Linked DNA regions of Homo sapiens: region 2 is linked to region 1. The links come from fine-mapping of genetic effects on gene expression. Tissue or cell type: whole blood. Region 1 holds a variant in brackets; the other region holds the start of a gene. All regions are shown on one strand. Distances are from middle to middle.

Region 1 (8,273 bases):
ACTTAAAATGGCTAGATATTGCATAGCCTGAATTGTCTTGTTCTGAAGATCGTGGTGGTCATTTTGTCAGAAATAACTCTTAACAGTAAATACTCTGCTGTCTGTGAACTCTCCCTGCCTTAATCCCTGTTTCCAGAGTGTCAGGTTCAGATAGGTTGTCATTTATCAAGGTGTCTGGTGTCCATTAAAATAAACAATATACGCAGCAGCCTGGCAGAAGGGACCAAGTACTGGCCTTTGGAAATGTCATCTTTAAAATAGCCGAGTGCAAAGATAGAGAAACTGAAGACATGCCCTCAGAAGGTGCATGTTTATTTGTTTTCCTAGGAGTCGCTCGTAAAAATGTAAAAGTATGCCATTAAAAAAAAATATTTTATGACCTGTAAGTCAACGAAAAGGTTTTTGTTTGGGGAAGAAAAACATGTAAGTAAGTTATATGTATCTCTTTCACAGCCATGGTTTTTTTTTTGTTCCACAGAGCAAAAAAAATTTTATATCACTCCAGACTTTTGTTTAATGAATTCATAGACATTTTCGTAATGTTATATACATAATTTTGTTTTACTTTTATCACTTATTTCATATGAATCATGTCTGACATTGGTCACATATTTGTCATTTCCTTTAAATTTAAATTTAATTTTGCAAGTAGTTTAAGCATTTGGTAAGAATAAAAGAAATTCAAACCTATAAATTGGAAAGGAAGTCTTTCATCACTCTGCTGCATGTCCACTTCAGTTCCTCTTGCGTATTTGTTATGAGATCCCAGCGCTTCTCTTTTGTTGGACATTTGTTTTCCATTATTTGCTACTATAAATAGAGACCCTCACAAACAACATTTCTAATCTGTTAAAATATTTGAAGAGTTCTATTTTAGCTAGGTCTCTGAACCACTCCAGCTCTTTGAGTATTTTAGTAATCTCTGCTAACAGTATATATAATATAGTTAGTTCAGTTATAACTTCTGCAAGTTATATTTCTACAGTTCACATTTTACCACATAATATTAATAAAATTATTTAATAAAATTAAGGAATAATTTACTTTTTATCCTAAAAAAGAAAATATTTGAGAAAATTCACAAGAAAAGGAATATAAATCACTGAAAATTATGGAAAAATATTCAACTCATGGATAATTAATAAAGAAAAGGCAAATTGAAATTTAAAAACTTTTGAAAGCTTTTTTTGTTTTTTGCCTCTGAAATTGGTAAAGATTTTAGAAGCTAATTCTCAGTTCTGGCAAATGTTCTATCAAATAGATATTCTCCCACATGGAAGTTGGCTGATAAATTTGTACAACCATGGGCAGTCTTAAAATGTTTGGAGTTTTTTTGGCCAGGCGCGGTGGCTCACGCCTGTAATTCCCAGCACTTTGGGATGCCGAGGCAGGTGGATCACCCGAGGTCAGGAGTTCATGACTAGCCTGGCCAACATGGTGAGACCCTGTCTCTACTAAAAATACAAAAATTAGCAGGGCGTGGTGGTGGGCACCTGTAATCCCAACTACTCGGGAGGCTGAGGCAGGAGAATCGCTTGAACCCGGGAGGTGGAGGTTGCAGTGAGCCGAGATCACGCCATTGCACTCCAGCCTGGGCAACAAAAGCGGAGCTCCGTCTCAAAAAAAAAAAAAAAAGTTTGGAGTTTTAAAAAATTTTATTCATTTATTTTTCTAACACTATCCACCTGGGGATAAAATGTTTGTAGTTTTGATTTTTATTCTACTTTTGAGAACCTATCCTAAAGTAATGCAGAAATAAAGACAGAAAGCTTTATGGTACAAAGTTATTAATCGCAGAATTATTTATAATCACTGGAAAAATTAGAAAATACTTTAGAGAGGAGTGGTTAAGTAAAATATGGTTTACCCATGTAGTAGAATATTATGCACATGATATTTAAATATAATTTTAAACTACATGAAAATAAATGTTTTTTTAAACAATGTAAAATTGTGTATGTGTGTATATATATATATATATTATATATATGTATTTTTTTTAATCTAATTTTGTTTTTTGGAGACAGGGTCTTACTCTGTCACCCAGGCCACTCAGGCTGAAGTGCAGTGGCACAGTCATAGCTCACTGTAACTTCACACTCCTAGGCTCAAGTGATCCTCCCACCCCATCCTCCCATGTAGCTGAGACGACAGGCATGCACCACCATGCCTAGTTGGGTTTTTTTCTTTCTTTTTTTCCTTCTTTCTTTCTTTTTTTTTTTTTTTGAGACAGAGTCTTGTTCTGTTGTCCAGGCTGGAGTGCAGTGGTGCAATCTCGGAATTTTAAAGGTTTTTTGTAAAGACCATATCTTGCTCTGTTGTCCAGGCTAGTCTTGAACTCTAAGCCTCAAGCAATCCACCTGCCTCAGCCTTCCAAAGTGCTGGGCTTACAGGTGTGAGCCACTGTGCCCAGCATTTTAATGAATCTCAACTATGTTAAAGCAACAAAAATAGTTAGAAAATAGATCCCAAAAGGATAATACTTGTTCCTGTAGATTAAGTTCATGGGTGAGTTTTATTTCCTTTTCGTATAGATATGTAGTTTTTTTTTTTTTGTTTTTTTTTTTTTTGAGATGGAGTTTTGCTCTTGTTCCCCAGGCTGGAGTGCAATGGCACAATCTCGGCTCACCACAACCTCTGCCTCCCGGGTTCAGGTGATTCTCCTGCCTCAGTTTCCCGAATAGCTGGGATTACAGGCATGCGCCACCACATCCGAATTTTGCATTTTTAGTAGAGACGGGGTTTCTCCATGTTGGTCAGGCTGGTCTTGTACTCCTGACCTCAGGTGATCCACCCGCCTTGGCCTCCCAAAGTGCTGGGATTACATGCGTGAGCCACCACGCCCGGCCTCATATGTTTTTTTTCCAAAGTTTCTTCAGTGAGTACATAATTAAAAACGAAATTAAATTAACTTGATTGATAAGACGATAGGGGCAGTGGAAGTAAACTTAGCAATGCTCCCCAGACTTCCATGGAGCAGATACACCACAGAAGGGAGTGACCTTGTTTGCTTTGTCCCCTTGACTCTTGCTGCTTGCTTTCCCCTGGCTTCCTTTGTGGCAGCCCAGGGTTGCCTGGGACACTCTGAGAGATGCAGGCCAGGACAAGCCTCGGGCCATTGTATTGTGATGTCCTTATTGTAGTGTTGGCTGGGGAACACAGGTCTTTGGGCAGGTTGATATTAGTTTAGTGGAGCAGCTTAAGTTTCGCTTTGAAGGCTGTTGCTTGGGCAAAGTGTACTCTGCCTTTCAGTGAGCTAATTAAAAACTCCTTCCTTGGGAAGTAGTCTTCATTAGGCTTTAAAAAGGAAAACAGACAAACAGATGCTAATAGATGGTCCTGCTTTTTCACCATTGGTGTTTGTCAACAGCGAGATATTCTTGAAGTTTGCCACCTAAGGGTTCTTCCAGCTTTCCTTATGCCACCAAAAAAGGCCATGTGACAGGACTTGCTTGCCAAGGAGAAAGAAGGATCAGTGCTATCAGAAGGTATTCAAGCATGATTAAGAGCCCAGGCTGCTCTCATGTTAGACAGATCTGGTGGCTAATCCCAGCTCCACTGTCTCCTGGCTCTATCACCTTGGGCAAGTCACTTAACAATTCTAAGCCTCAGTTTCCTTATCTGCAGCATGGGGATGAAAGAGTGTCTGCCTTATAGAGTGAATATAAAGAATGAATGGTATGGAGG[C/T]GTGTAATAACTGCTCAGATGGTATTGGTTGCTATTTTTAATAGTATCCTCCCTTTTAAAAGATCCCTCAGATCACTCGAGCCCAGGAGTTTGAGTGTAGTGAACTATGACCGCGTCACTGAGCTCCAATCTAGGCAACAGAGTGAGACCATGTAAAAAAAATTAAAAAATAAAAGAGACCTCATGATTGTTAGCATCCTTATAGGCCTTATAGGGAGACCTGGGAGGTTTCAATGAGGTTCTCTTCCTGGAGCCTAGCCTTAGAGGAACAATGGAAGAGTGATGATCCTGAGGCCTGGTGATCCCATCACTTCGAGTTGAGGTTCCTGTAGGCCAAAGCCCTGCCAATGGAAGGAGTCATAGAGGACTCAAGGACTCAGTTTTTGTCAGGTCAACCCAACTTCAAAGCCTGCTTATTCTAATTACCAGCTCTGTAGCCTTGAGCAAATCATGCAGCCTCAAGAGCCTCAGTTTGATCCCAGAATATCTACCTCCTAGAGATAGTGGAGGAATAAATAAGAAATATAAAATGCTTAGCGTGCTTCCTTAGCAGAATCCACTCAATAACTAGTTGCTCTGCCTATTGTTATTTTTATGGTGCTTGATTGAGATCAAGAGGGTGGCCCAGTGATGCAGTCAGAACATGGGGTCTGAAGTAAAACCATTTGGTTTAAATCCTATTGCTCTCATTCACTAGTTTCGTGACCCCAGACAAATAACTTCTCTGTCTTTCAGTTTCATTATCTGTAAAATGGGGACAGTAATTGTACCCACTTCATGGAATTATTGAGAAGACTAAATGGCTTAAGGCAAGTAAAGTGCTTACAGTCATGGCTGGAACAGAGTAAGTGCTCAATAAATTATCATCGTTATCACTGATATGTACGGATTGCTCTGAGAGAGGCTGCCCCGTTAAAAGAACACACTTGGCAAGGAATGTAATACATTGGCCCTGCCCCCAGGATCTCCTCCTCCTCCTGGGCAGTCTCACTTGTTGCCCCACACCCTGGTGCAACTTCCTTTTCTGATAGTCCTGTGGGACCTGAGCCCTTTTGACTACATTCCAGTGCGTTTCTGCCTGTCTTGGTATAGATCATCACCTGTGACCCAATCTCTTTATTCTCTGATTACTCCACTTGAAGTCCCTGTCCTGAACCAGTCCCCATGGCCCCACCTCATTACATTCCTGCTCACTCCTGTAGCTGTGCCACCCACCCAGGCCCAGATCGCTGTGAGGTGCAGTCCCTGGAGGCAAAGTATTACCCCCGGTCTTGCTGAGGCTTTTGGCCCCCACCCTGACACAAATAGAGAGTTAGAAAACATAACATATTCAAAGCTAGATTGAGTAGATAATGAAATTTCCTGATACTACAGCCAATGTACATACACATTTGACTGATTTACTCTAATATCCCTAGGATAAGGCTAAATATCAAGGCTTATATAGAAAGCCTAGTGCCTGTGCATCTGGGCTGCCCTAGCAAATGGTAGGTTATATCATTTTGGGGTAAAACTCTTAGTCCTCTTGGCACAGTTCCTTCTGGTTAGGCCAGCGTGATGCCCTAGCTCTTGCCCACATGAGGCTGCCATTTCAGACATGATTTCAGGTATCCTGTCTGGGCCTGTAGGTAGATGTTTTTGGATGACTGTGCAAGCTTAGCCCTCCGTGATCTGACTCCTACCTGCTTGCTGAGACTTTTTGGATTGTAACTTTTTTTTTGTTTTTGTTTTTTTTGAGACGGACTCTTGCTGTGTCTCCCAGGCTGGAGTGCAGTGGCGTGATCTCGGCTCACTGCAACCTCCACCTCTCAGGTTCAAGAGATTCTCCTGCCTCAGCCTCCCGAATAGCTGGGACTACATGCGCCCGCCACCACATCCGGCTAATTTTTGTATTTTTAGTAGAGATGGGGCTTCACCATATTGGCCAGGCTGGTCTCGAACTCCTGACCTTGTGATCCACCCTCCTCGGCCTCCCAAAGTGCTGAGATTACAGGGGTGAGCCACCACGCCCAGCCGGATTGTAACTTTTTATTGAAGTATGACATATATACGGAAAAATGTATAACTCATTAGTGTACAGATACGTGAATTTTCACGAAACGTTGAGTAACCAGCACCCAGATTAAGGAAGAGTGGTACCAGCATCCACGGGAGCCCCTTTTGTGTTCTCTTTCCTGTCACTCCTCCCAGCTCTTGCCCTGTTTTGGCTATATTGAGCTAATTACAGTACACACAGCCCCACCCCAGCACACCATTCTCTCTTGCCCTCCAACCTGTGCACAGCCTTGGACTGCCCAGCCTCACCTACTCATTGTTCAAAACTCAGGTGTCAGCTTCCCCTGATGGGCTAGGTCTGCTTCCTTTGTACTTTCCTCCTGTATTTTGTAATTGTTTACTGGGAGCTCCCTGAGGACAGAGACTATCTGAGTCACCAGGTTTCCTGGCACCCATCACACTCTTCGTATAGAGCAAACTCCAGAAATGTTTGCTTATTGCACAGTTTGTTTAAAATATTTGAAGTCACTTCTCACTTTCCTTGATCTTCTCTGACTCTGCCCCAAGCACATATCATTCCTCCTCTGCCTTCCTAACTCCTTTTTACCCCTTCAAGCTTTTTTCAAAACACATAGCCCTTTCTGAGTCTCCTGCCTGCCTCCATACTCACCCTCACTTTTGCTCCGGCTGTGCGTCCGCCCTGTCCACACCTGTCCCAGCATCCCACACTCAGACTTCCCACACACCAACCTACTGACTGTTGCAGCACTGTGTTTCTGCCCCCAGACTGCAGGCCTCAGCCATGCAATAGTTTACTCCACAGAGAGCATTCTCTGTGCCAGCCCTCTGCCACAACAAACCCTCAACCACTATTCTTCAGGCTCTGCTTTATTTGAGTTAGATTTATTTTGTGCTTTGCCTGTGTTCATGACTCTGTGTATTACACTTCATAAGTTTTTCTTCCTCAAGAACATTGGTTTCCTTTAATATTCTCATATTTTTAAAAAGGATTTCATATGTATTGCTGAATGATATTCATTCATTCATTTCTTCATTTGTTCATTTATCACATGTGCCAGGAACTGTACTAGGTGCTGGAGAGCCAAAGTTAAGATAAATGTGTTGCCCTTGAGAAACTCACAGAGAAATGGGGAGAGAGAGAAACATATGCAGATTATTATAAGATAGCATCAGTATTAGGCTTATTAACACAGGGATTAAGAGTGGGTACCGGAGTCAGCTATGTGGTTTTGGTCACATTACTGAAGCTTTCTGTTTCTGTCTTGATTTCTTGACCTGTAAAATGGGTAGAATGTGTGGTTTTTATCTCAGTAAAGCTGTTCTAAGAAGCAGAAATAGAGCTTTCACAGGGCTGTTGTGATGTTTCCTGAGGACCTTTTTGAGTCAGGAACTGTTTTTTTTGTTTTTTTTTTTTTGTTTTTTTTTTGTTTTTTTTTAGGTGGAGTCTTGCTGTGTCGCGTGCAGTGGCGCGATCTCGGCTCACTGCAAGCTCTGCCTCCCGGGTTCACGCCATTCTCCTGCCTCAGCCTCCCGAGTAGCTGGGACTATAGGCTCCCACCACCATGCCCGGCTAATTTTTTGTATTTTTAGTAGAAACAGGGTTTCACCGTGTTAGTCAGGATGGTCTCGATCTCCCGACCTCGTGATCCGCCCGCCTCAGCCTCCCAAAGTGCTGGGATTACAGGCATGAGCCACCGCGCCTGTCCAAGTCAGGAACTGTTCTTGATGCAGAGGATACAGTACAGTGCCTGGCACCTAGCAAGTGATCCATAAATGTCAACTATAATCAACGGTTGTTACCACCTTTGCTTGGGCTCATAGACAAAGTGACCTTTCACCTGGCTATCAAACGAATGCTTTCTACTAGAAAGCGGGCAGAGAAGGATGGCTTGGGCAGAAGGAATAGCCTAAGAACAGACACAGAAGAATGAAACAGCATGATGTTTTCAGAAATTGGGAATAGTCCAGTGTAGCTGGAGGACAGGGCGTGTGTGGAAGAGTGGTGAGAGGTGAAACTGGAGAAATGAGACCCAGTGGTGAAGGGTCTTGTTTGCTGTTGGAGTTTAGACTTAACCTGATAGATGAAATGGAACCATCAGAAGTCTTTAAAGACTGGCTAGCCACAATCTAAACTGTTTTAGAAGGTTCCTTTGGTGCTTCTGTAGATGGACTTGGATGGGAGGTGGTTGGGAGACCGCTAAGGAGGAGGGGGAAAAGCTGCTGGAGAGAGATGACAAGAGCAAGAACTGAAAGGATAAATGCTCCAGGGGTGGATCCACAGGGCTTGGTGACTGGTGGAAGGAAGAACATGGGAGCTGAAGGGTGAAGGGTTGCCAGGGTATCTGGCTAGATGTTGATGCCAGTTACTGACAAAGAATAGCAGGAGGAACAGATTTTTCCTTCCCAAAGACTACTTCAGTCTATGGAAGGAAGACTGCTTCTTCCTGATCCTAGGAGCAAGTATTCTAAAACTCACAAGTCCATTTGGCTAGGCTGTGAGCCTCTTTTTCTCTCTTGGGCCTCATAAACAGTCAGTTTCAGACAAGCAATTATTAACCTCAGGCAATTAG
Region 2 (8,273 bases), 66 kb after region 1:
GTCTGTAGTGTGAGCCCCTGTCCCCTCATCCTTCTCTGAGGCTGGGCCCTGCCCAACCTGCTCCAGGGACCAGTGGTCTTGGGAAGCTTGGGCTGACTGGGATTGCAGACTCCGGGTCTGGTGTATAGGGCCCTTGGCAAATCCCTATTCCTTTCTGGGCCTCCTTGAAGAGACAGTGGGCTGAGCTTCTAGGCTCCCTTTGATTCTTCTGTGTGTGGCCCAGAATGGGACAGACAGACTGAGCTGGGCACAGAAATACCATAGTGACAGAACCATTCGAAGACCCTGCCCTGATGGAGGCCCCGGGCCAGGGGAGGAGGCACAGTCAGGCTGTCAGCTGAATGGAAAATTACACTTTCGATGAGTCTGTTATCGAGTAGAGATTAGTGGGGCCAAGAACTAATCTGGGGGGCAAGTGATCCTTCCTGAGCCCTGAAGAGTAAGCAGCTGTCAACTAGATGAACGGGGAGAGAACATTCCAGGCAGAAGAAACAGTAAAGATCCTGCCGTGGGGTGAGGTGGAGCCGGGAGAGGGCGGACAGGGACCCTAGCAAGGTCTCAGAGCACGAGGGAGTTCGAGCTTTGCCCTAAGGCTTGGGAAGCCTTTGGAGGATTTGAAGGCTGGAAGTAACACCATCAGATGTGGGTTTTGAAAAGCTCCCTCTGGCTGCCAGGGAGAATGGGGTGGGCACGGGTTTGAGAGCAGGGAGCCCAAGGACCAAGCTTTGCTGTTGTTTAGGAGATGAGATGACAGTGGCTCTGTCCAGAGTAGTGACTGTGGGGATGGATCCAAAGGGTGGATTTGAGTTTAGGGGGAATTGACAGGTCATGGTGGCTCGATGTATGAGAGAAGTGTCAGGGCAATTTTGTGGCCTGGGCACCTGGCTGGAAGATGGGGGCATGGATGCTGAGTGGGAGAAGTGTATTTGACAGAGGGAAGGTGAGGAGTTTGATGTGGACCTGGCTGGGATGGAAGTGGCTGTGGGAGGATGGGGCAGAGGCCTCTGGTTGCACAGGCACCAGGCTGGCATTCGAGGCCAGAGCCTGGGATGGAGGTGTAGACCATGGGTGGGGGCAGGGGGAGTCCAGGCAGCTTCTGAGAGGCCAGACCTTGCAGGGTCAATTATGGGCCCTGAGGTGGGGGCCCTGAGGAGGGCCTCTCCAGTGATTGTGATCCAGAGCCAGGCAGGGGCGTTCCTGTCTTCCAACAACACCTGCCAGCAGTTCAGGGATCCTGGGTTTAGGGGGAGGTACCCAGCAGCGCCTCACACCCTCTCTCTCCCCCCAGATCCTGCTCATCTCTGATTACTTCTATGCCTTCCTGCGGCGGGAGTACTACCTCACACATGGCCTCTACTTGACCGCCAAGGATGGCACAGAGGCCATGCTCGTGCTCAAGTAGGCCTGGCTGGCACAGGGCTGCATGGACCTCAGGGGGCTGTGGGGCCAGAAGCTGGGCCAAGCCCTCCAGCCAGAGTTGCCAGCAGGCGAGTGCTTGGGCAGAAGAGGTTCGAGTCCAGGGTCACAAGTCTCTGGTACCAAAAGGGACCCATGGCTGACTGACAGCAAGGCCTATGGGGAAGAACTGGGAGCTCCCCAACTTGGACCCCCACCTTGTGGCTCTGCACACCAAGGAGCCCCCTCCCAGACAGGAAGGAGAAGAGGCAGGTGAGCAGGGCTTGTTAGATTGTGGCTACTTAATAAATGTTTTTTGTTATGAAGTCTACCCTGAGACCACATCTGCATTGCACTCCTAGAGGGGGTGGCCCCTAATAATGTTCTGGAACACTACACACAGGTGTGGGTTTCCAGAGCGAGCACCGCGGCCACAGAACACAAGTCTGTGCGCCAGAGCCCGGGGATGGTGCGGGCAGCCCCACCAGCACCCTCCCCACTCCCAAGCAAGCGGCTGGAGGCACAGGGCCAGGCAGGCCTGAGCAATCTTTATTCTGCAGAGGGACAATGACCACAGATCCATACACCACGTGGAGACCGAGGGGCGGGGAGCCAGGGGCCAGTCTTTCAGGGGTGGGCAGGTCCAGGCGGTGGGCAGAGCCTCGGGTGGGTGAGGGGCAGATGGGCAGACAGGCAGGGGCCTAAAAAAAAGATGAACCACACAGCAGGGGTGCTGGGAGCTGCTCCCCACCCTCCCCCATCCCACCAGCCAGCACCCAGAGGGACAACCCTAACACGACCGGCCCAGGATCCACCCAGGGGCAGAGTAGGTGGGTTGGTGCCCTCTGACTAGGGGGGCACATGCCTGCCCAGCCCACCACGGTAGAGGCAGCTCAGTTCAGGAACCAGGAGCTCTCTGGGCAGGGCCTGACCGGGGCCGCCCGACTCCCAGGCCGAGCCCCCCTACTGCTGGCTCAGAAGCCGAAGGTTTCCTGGGAGGCGTAGACCATATAGAGGAAGCCGTCCTCGTCTTTCTCCTGCTCGTAGATGTCCGCGATGGGCGTGGACACACTCACCATGCTGTGCTGGTTCACCAGCAGGAAGAAGGCCTGCGTGGGGTTCAGCTGCAGGCGGCGCCTGCAGCCGGCGGGAGAGTATGCAGCTGTGAGGGGCTTGGCTGCGGGACGGACATAGCCCTGACCCCCAGAATGATTCCCAGCCTTTCACACCCATTCTCACCCCAGCTGTCACCTCTGACCCAACACCGACTGCAGCCCCGACCTTGACCTTTCCAGCCACCCCAGAACAGGGGCCCACCGCCCGGTCCCATCACCCCTGACCCCACTCCCACCCCTTCTCGGCGGGAACCCGGCTCCCCTCCCGACCCTAGCCACCTCCTGGCGGCGGCTGCCCACGCACCGGATGATCTTGACCAACTCGCTCATGTTGACATGGTCCGGGACCAAAAACTTGGTCTTGTCCAGGACGGGCAGCTGCTTCTCACCCTTGTAGCGCTCGATGATCACCTGGGAGCAGGGCGGGCGGGCAGGGGGTCGTGTCGGGAACGCGCGAGGCGGGGGCGGGGCAGGGCTGGGGGTGCGGGACTCACCGGGATTTTGCTGGGGTGCTGGTCGCGGATCTGCTGTACCTCCTTACAGCGGTCGGCTGCGGACAGCGGCCAGACCGTGAGGCCGGGTCGGGCCGGCCCAGGTCCGCCCCGCCTGTCCCGGAGGGGCGGCCCCCGGCCACGCCCCAGCTCCAGCCCCCACCCCCGGGGCCATCAGGCCCCACAGCCCCTGGCACCTATCGCGGTGGGGAAGCGGGCAGCCCCCGCCCAGGCCGGAGCTGGTCCCAGCCCGAGGGTCCAGCCAGAGCCTGACGTCACGGGGCTGACGTCACCTGCGGCAGTCGGGGTCGGCCGGCACCCCTGCCCCAGAGCTCGCAGCTCGCCTGCCGGGCCTCACCGAAGCTCCGCCGCTGCTTGAAAGGCCGGTCTGAGGGCATCGCGCGGGCCCGGCTGGGCGCGCAGGCCGGGGCTCTGGGGCGCGGGGATGTGTCTGCGGTTTGGGGGCTCCGGGGGCTCCGCGCCTCGCGCTCAAGGGCTCCGGGGCTCGCGCTGAGCACGGCGGCTGCGGCTGCGGGAGGTAACTCGCCCGGTGACGTCAGGTCACAACATTCCTTAAAGGGGAGGCCAGTGCGCCGCTCCCATTGGGCCGACGCACAACCCGCCCGCCCGGACCCGTGACGTCACGGCGCAGAGAGCCTGGGTCCGCGGACCGGGACGCGAGGGGCGGGGCTTCTGGGCGCGTCACAGTCCCGTGACGTCATGGGCAGCGCGGGAGCTTCTCCCGCAGCCCGAACTCAAGGTAAGGCCCGGAGGGCGGTGGGGCCGCCCTAGGCCGATGGAGCGGGCGGGCCAGGCTGCAGCCCCACGGCACCACTTCCCGCCCTCACCGAGTCTGTGTCAGGACTGACGCGGTTCTGGGCGCCGTGGGAAACAGCCGGAGCCAAAGGCCCGGCGCCTTCACGGGGCTTAGGGCGAGAGAAGGGAGAAGGTGCGGGAGGCACAGTCAGACACAGGATAGAACAGGATGCTAGAAATGAACGCCCAGGTTTGAAAAAGAATAATATAATTGAAAAGTAGAGCCATCGAAATTCAGGTCTCAGAGGATGAGGTGAGAAGGCAGAAAAGGACAACAGAAGAGAAATCGTGGACCTGGAGGCTGATCGGAAGCAGCTCACCAGAGAGACAGGTGATGGGGAATAAGGAAAAGGGCACAGATGGCAACGCCAGGAGAACTCGCGGGCCCGAGCAGAGCTCCAGAGGCGAACACTGAAAGACCTGCAGAGACAGTTCCTGAAAAAGAGCTGCCAGAAATGATGCTTAAAATCCAGAGCAGAATGCGCAGACTGAAGATCAACATTTTTTTGGGGGAGGGGGGAGGGGGACGAAGTCTCGTTCTGTCGCCAGGCTGGGGTGCAGTGGTGCGATCTCAGCTCACTGCAACCTCTGCCTCCCGGGTTCAAGCGATTCTCCTGCCTCAGTCAGCCTCCTCAGTAGCTGGGATTACAGGCGCCTGCCACCACCCCCAGCTAATTATTGTATTTTTAGTAGAGATGGAGTTTCACCATGTTGGCCAGGATGGTCTCGATCTCCTGACCTCGTGATCCACTCGCCTCGGCCTCCCAAAGTGCTGGGATTACAGGTGTGAGCCACCACGCCTGGCCGCCGAAATAATTTTTAAAGAATGTAGTTTAGTAACAAGGACATGGAACCCAAAAGGAAGAAATTAGATGGAAAAATGGTGAGCAAATTGGTAAACATGTGAATCTAAACAAGCATTTAATATGCAATATGAATAATAATGATTAATTTGTGGGCCACAGAAACAAGATGCATGAGACACAAGAACATGGAAGACTGAGAGGGCAATTTGAGAGGGGGTTAAAGAGACTGAGCATTGTCTGGCTTTGTAAAGTCAGGTGTGTATTTCAGATATTTAAGAGGATCACCAAAAGAATACAAACGGAACTATAACTGCCAATGCAGAGAAAAGGGTAGTGATGGGTATTAAAACTATAATGGAAGGCAGAAAGGGAGAAAAAGGAAGCAAAGTAAAAGGGATGGTAAATATATAGTACAAAACCAGAGGTAGAAAATGTGGTTTACATTCACCTCTTAAAACACAGATGACCAGATTGGCCAAGAAAAAATAAGATGCAGCTCTATGCTATTTACAAGAGGAAATTTAAAACCTAAGGGCACCAAAAAGTAAAACGATGGGAAAAGGTGTACTAGAGAAAAACTAACCAAAAGATGTACCTATAGAAAACTCAGACAAAATAGGCCTTCAGGCAGAAGACACTGGGGATAAGAGGATCAACATGAAATGATGCGAGGAGGAACTCTGTGAAGAGAGGAAAGTTCTGAACTTCTATGTTCCAGGGTTTTTGTTTTTAAGGCTGAAAATAGGCCAGGCGCAGTGGCTCATGCCAGTAATCCCAGCACTTTGGGAGGCCGAGGTGGGTGGATCACTAGAGGCTGGGAATTCAAGACCAGCCTGGCCAACATGGCAAAACTCTGTCTCTACTAAAAATACAAAGATTAGCTAGCTGGGCGTGGTGGTGCACGCCTGTCATCCCAACTACTCAGGTGGCTGAGGCACAAGAATTGCTTGAACCTGCTAGGCGGAGGTTGCAGTGAGCTGAGATTGCGCCACTGCCCTCCAGCCTGGGCAACAGAGTGAGACTCTGTCTCGAAAAAAAAAAAAAAGAGGCTGAAAATATATTAAGAACACAAGGAGAAATTGCCAGGTCCTCCATCATAGGGAGACATAAGACCTCTTTGAGTAACTAATAAACCAAACAACCAAAAAAAAAAGGACATAGAGGATGTTAATACAGTTACTAATCAAGATCAATGAACCCCAATAGAAAACCTGACAGTTAGTTTTTTAACTTTTAAAATTTAAATTTCAGACCTGTGTGAGACCAACACATTATTTTCAATCACACAAGGAACATTTACAAAAATGACCCAACTACTAGGGTGCACGACAAATCTCAACAGATATCAAATCAGTTTCAACCATATTCTTTGGCCACAGACAAAAGCCGCGTAAGCTCCAGCTGTGTGGAAATTTAAACCTATTCTAAATATGAAGTCATATATAAATAAAAATTATTTAGTTCAAACAAAAAATGAGGATACATATGCTAAGAAAACTTGGTGGCCGGGCGCAGTGGCTCACGCCTGTAATCCCAGCACTTTGGGAGGCCAAGGCAGGCGGATCACGAGGTCAGGAGATCGAGACCATCCTGGCTAACATGGTGAAACCCCGTCTCTACTAAAAATACAAAAAATTAGCTGGGCGTGGTGGCGGGCGCCTGTAGTTCCAGCTACTCGGGAGGCTGAGGCAGGAGAATGGCTCGAACCTGGGAGGCGGAGCTTGCAGTAAATGGAGATCGCGCCACTGCACTCCAGCCTGGGCGACAGAGCGAGACTCCATCAAAAAAAAAAAAAAAAGAAAGAAAACTTGGGAGGGGGGCCATGGCAGGCCAGGTGTGGTGGTTCATACCTGTAATCCCAGCACTTTGGGGGGCCCAGACTGGAGAATTGCTTGAGCCCAAGAGTTCAAGGCTGCAGTGAGCTGTGATTGCAGCTCTGCATTCCAGCCTCGGTGACAAAATAAGATCCATTTCTTTAAAAAAAAAAAAAATCAGATTTATAGCCTTATTACATAGATGTATTACTTAGATAATAAATACAGAAAATCCATGAGCAGAGTTTCAAAGAAATTTAAGAAGGAGTAATAGTGTAATCCTAGCACTTTGGGAGGCCCAGGTTGGAAAATCATTTGAGCCCAGAAGTTTGAGACCAGCCTGGGCCACATAGTGAGACCCCGTCTCTACAAAAATGAGAAAATTAGGCCAGGCACAGTGGCTCACGCCTGTAATCCCAACACTTTGGGAGGCTGAGGTGGGCAGATCACTTGAGGCCAGGAGTTCGAGACCAGCCTGGCCAACATGGCAAAACCCTGTCTCTACTAAAAATACAGAAGTTAGCTGGGTGTGGTGGTGCATTCTGTAATCTCAGCTACTTGGGAGGCTGAGGCACAAGAATTGCTTGAATCCGGGAGGCAGAGGTTTCAGTGAGCCAAGATCATGCCACTGCACTCCAGCCTGCGTGACAAGAGTGAGACTCTGTCTCAAAAAAAAAAAAAAATAAGAAAATTCGCTGGCTTTGGTGGCACACACCTATAGTCCCAACTACTCAGGAAGGATCGTTTGAGTGACAGAGGCCCTTTCTCAGAAAAACAACAAAAAATGCTGAAAACAAACAAAAAACAACAACAACAAAAAATAGGCCAGGTGTGGTGGCCCACACCTGTAATCACAGCACTTGGGGAGGCCAAGGCAGGCAGATCACTTGAGTCCAGGAGTTGTAGACCAGCCTGGGCAATATGGTGAAACCCCATCTCTACAAAAAAAAAAAATACAAAAAATACAAAATACAAAAATTACAAAATACAAAAAAATTAGCTGGGTATGGTGGCACGTGTCTGTAGTCCAGCTACGTGGGAGGCTGAGGCATGAGAATTGCTTGAACCAGGGAGGTGGAGGTTGTAGTGAGCCAAGATTGTGTCACTACACTCCAGCCTGGCGACAGAGCGAGAGACCCCATCTCAAAAAACAAAAACAGGCCGGGCGCGGTGTCTCATGCCTGTAATCCCAGCACTTTGGGCGGCCAAGGCAGGCGGATCATGAGGTTAAGAGATTGAGACCATCCTGGCCAACATGGTGAAACCCCGTCTCTACTAAAAATACAAAAATTAGCTGGGCGTGGTGGTGCATGCCTGTAGTCCCAGCTACTTGGGAGGCTGAGGCAGGAGAATCACTTGAACCTGGGAGGCGGAGGTTGCAGTGAACCGAGATCGCGCCACCGCACTCCAGCCTGGTGACAGAGCGAGAGTTTGTCTAAAAAAAAAAAAAAAAAAAAAAAAAAAAAAAAAAAAAAACCCAACGTATAGTAAACATGTACTTAAAGGTAAAACACTATACTATGTGGTAAAACATGAAATATTCTCTTAAAAGCCAGGAACAAATGGCTAGTAAAGACAATTCAGTATTGTACAGGGGTCCAGAGCACCAAGACAAAAAAAGAGCAAACCTGTCACTCACAGCCAGGAAATCCAAGAGAATCTACACACAGTGAAAGACTGGTAACTACTGAAGGCTGAGGACACCTGATAGGTAATAAGTTTAGAGGAACGTGGAAAGATGGGCTCTTTCCACTGCTGCTGGGAGTGTAACTGACCTCAGCTACACTGGAGAGCAATTTGGCAAAATTGACCCAAACTGAAGATGCCCATGTCTTT

What was found. PIP is the estimated chance that this variant, and not a neighbour inherited with it, causes the effect.
Region 2: MAP1LC3A starts here. The variant in region 1 is fine-mapped to the expression of MAP1LC3A in whole blood (TOPMed, PIP above 0.99).

The regions. Positions count from the first base shown.
Region 1 is chr20:34,619,666-34,627,938 of GRCh38, reverse strand. All of the region lies in intron 6 of PIGU (phosphatidylinositol glycan anchor biosynthesis class U), which reads left to right. Among named protein-coding and RNA genes, the nearest start is that of PIGU, 53 kb to the left of the region's middle. The variant C/T (reference allele first, on the strand shown) is at 3,688.
Region 2 is chr20:34,553,995-34,562,267 of GRCh38, reverse strand. MAP1LC3A (microtubule associated protein 1 light chain 3 alpha) reads right to left here and starts at 3,550. Exons shown (of 4, transcript NM_032514.4): 1 at 3,360-3,550; 2 at 3,005-3,060; 3 at 2,815-2,921; 4 at 1,923-2,532. The coding sequence starts at 3,399. The coding sequence ends at 2,370. PIGU (phosphatidylinositol glycan anchor biosynthesis class U) reads left to right here. Exons shown (of 12, transcript NM_080476.5): 12 at 1,289-1,726. The coding sequence ends at 1,402. RefSeq lists silencers at 1,745-1,794, 3,369-3,418, 3,759-3,848.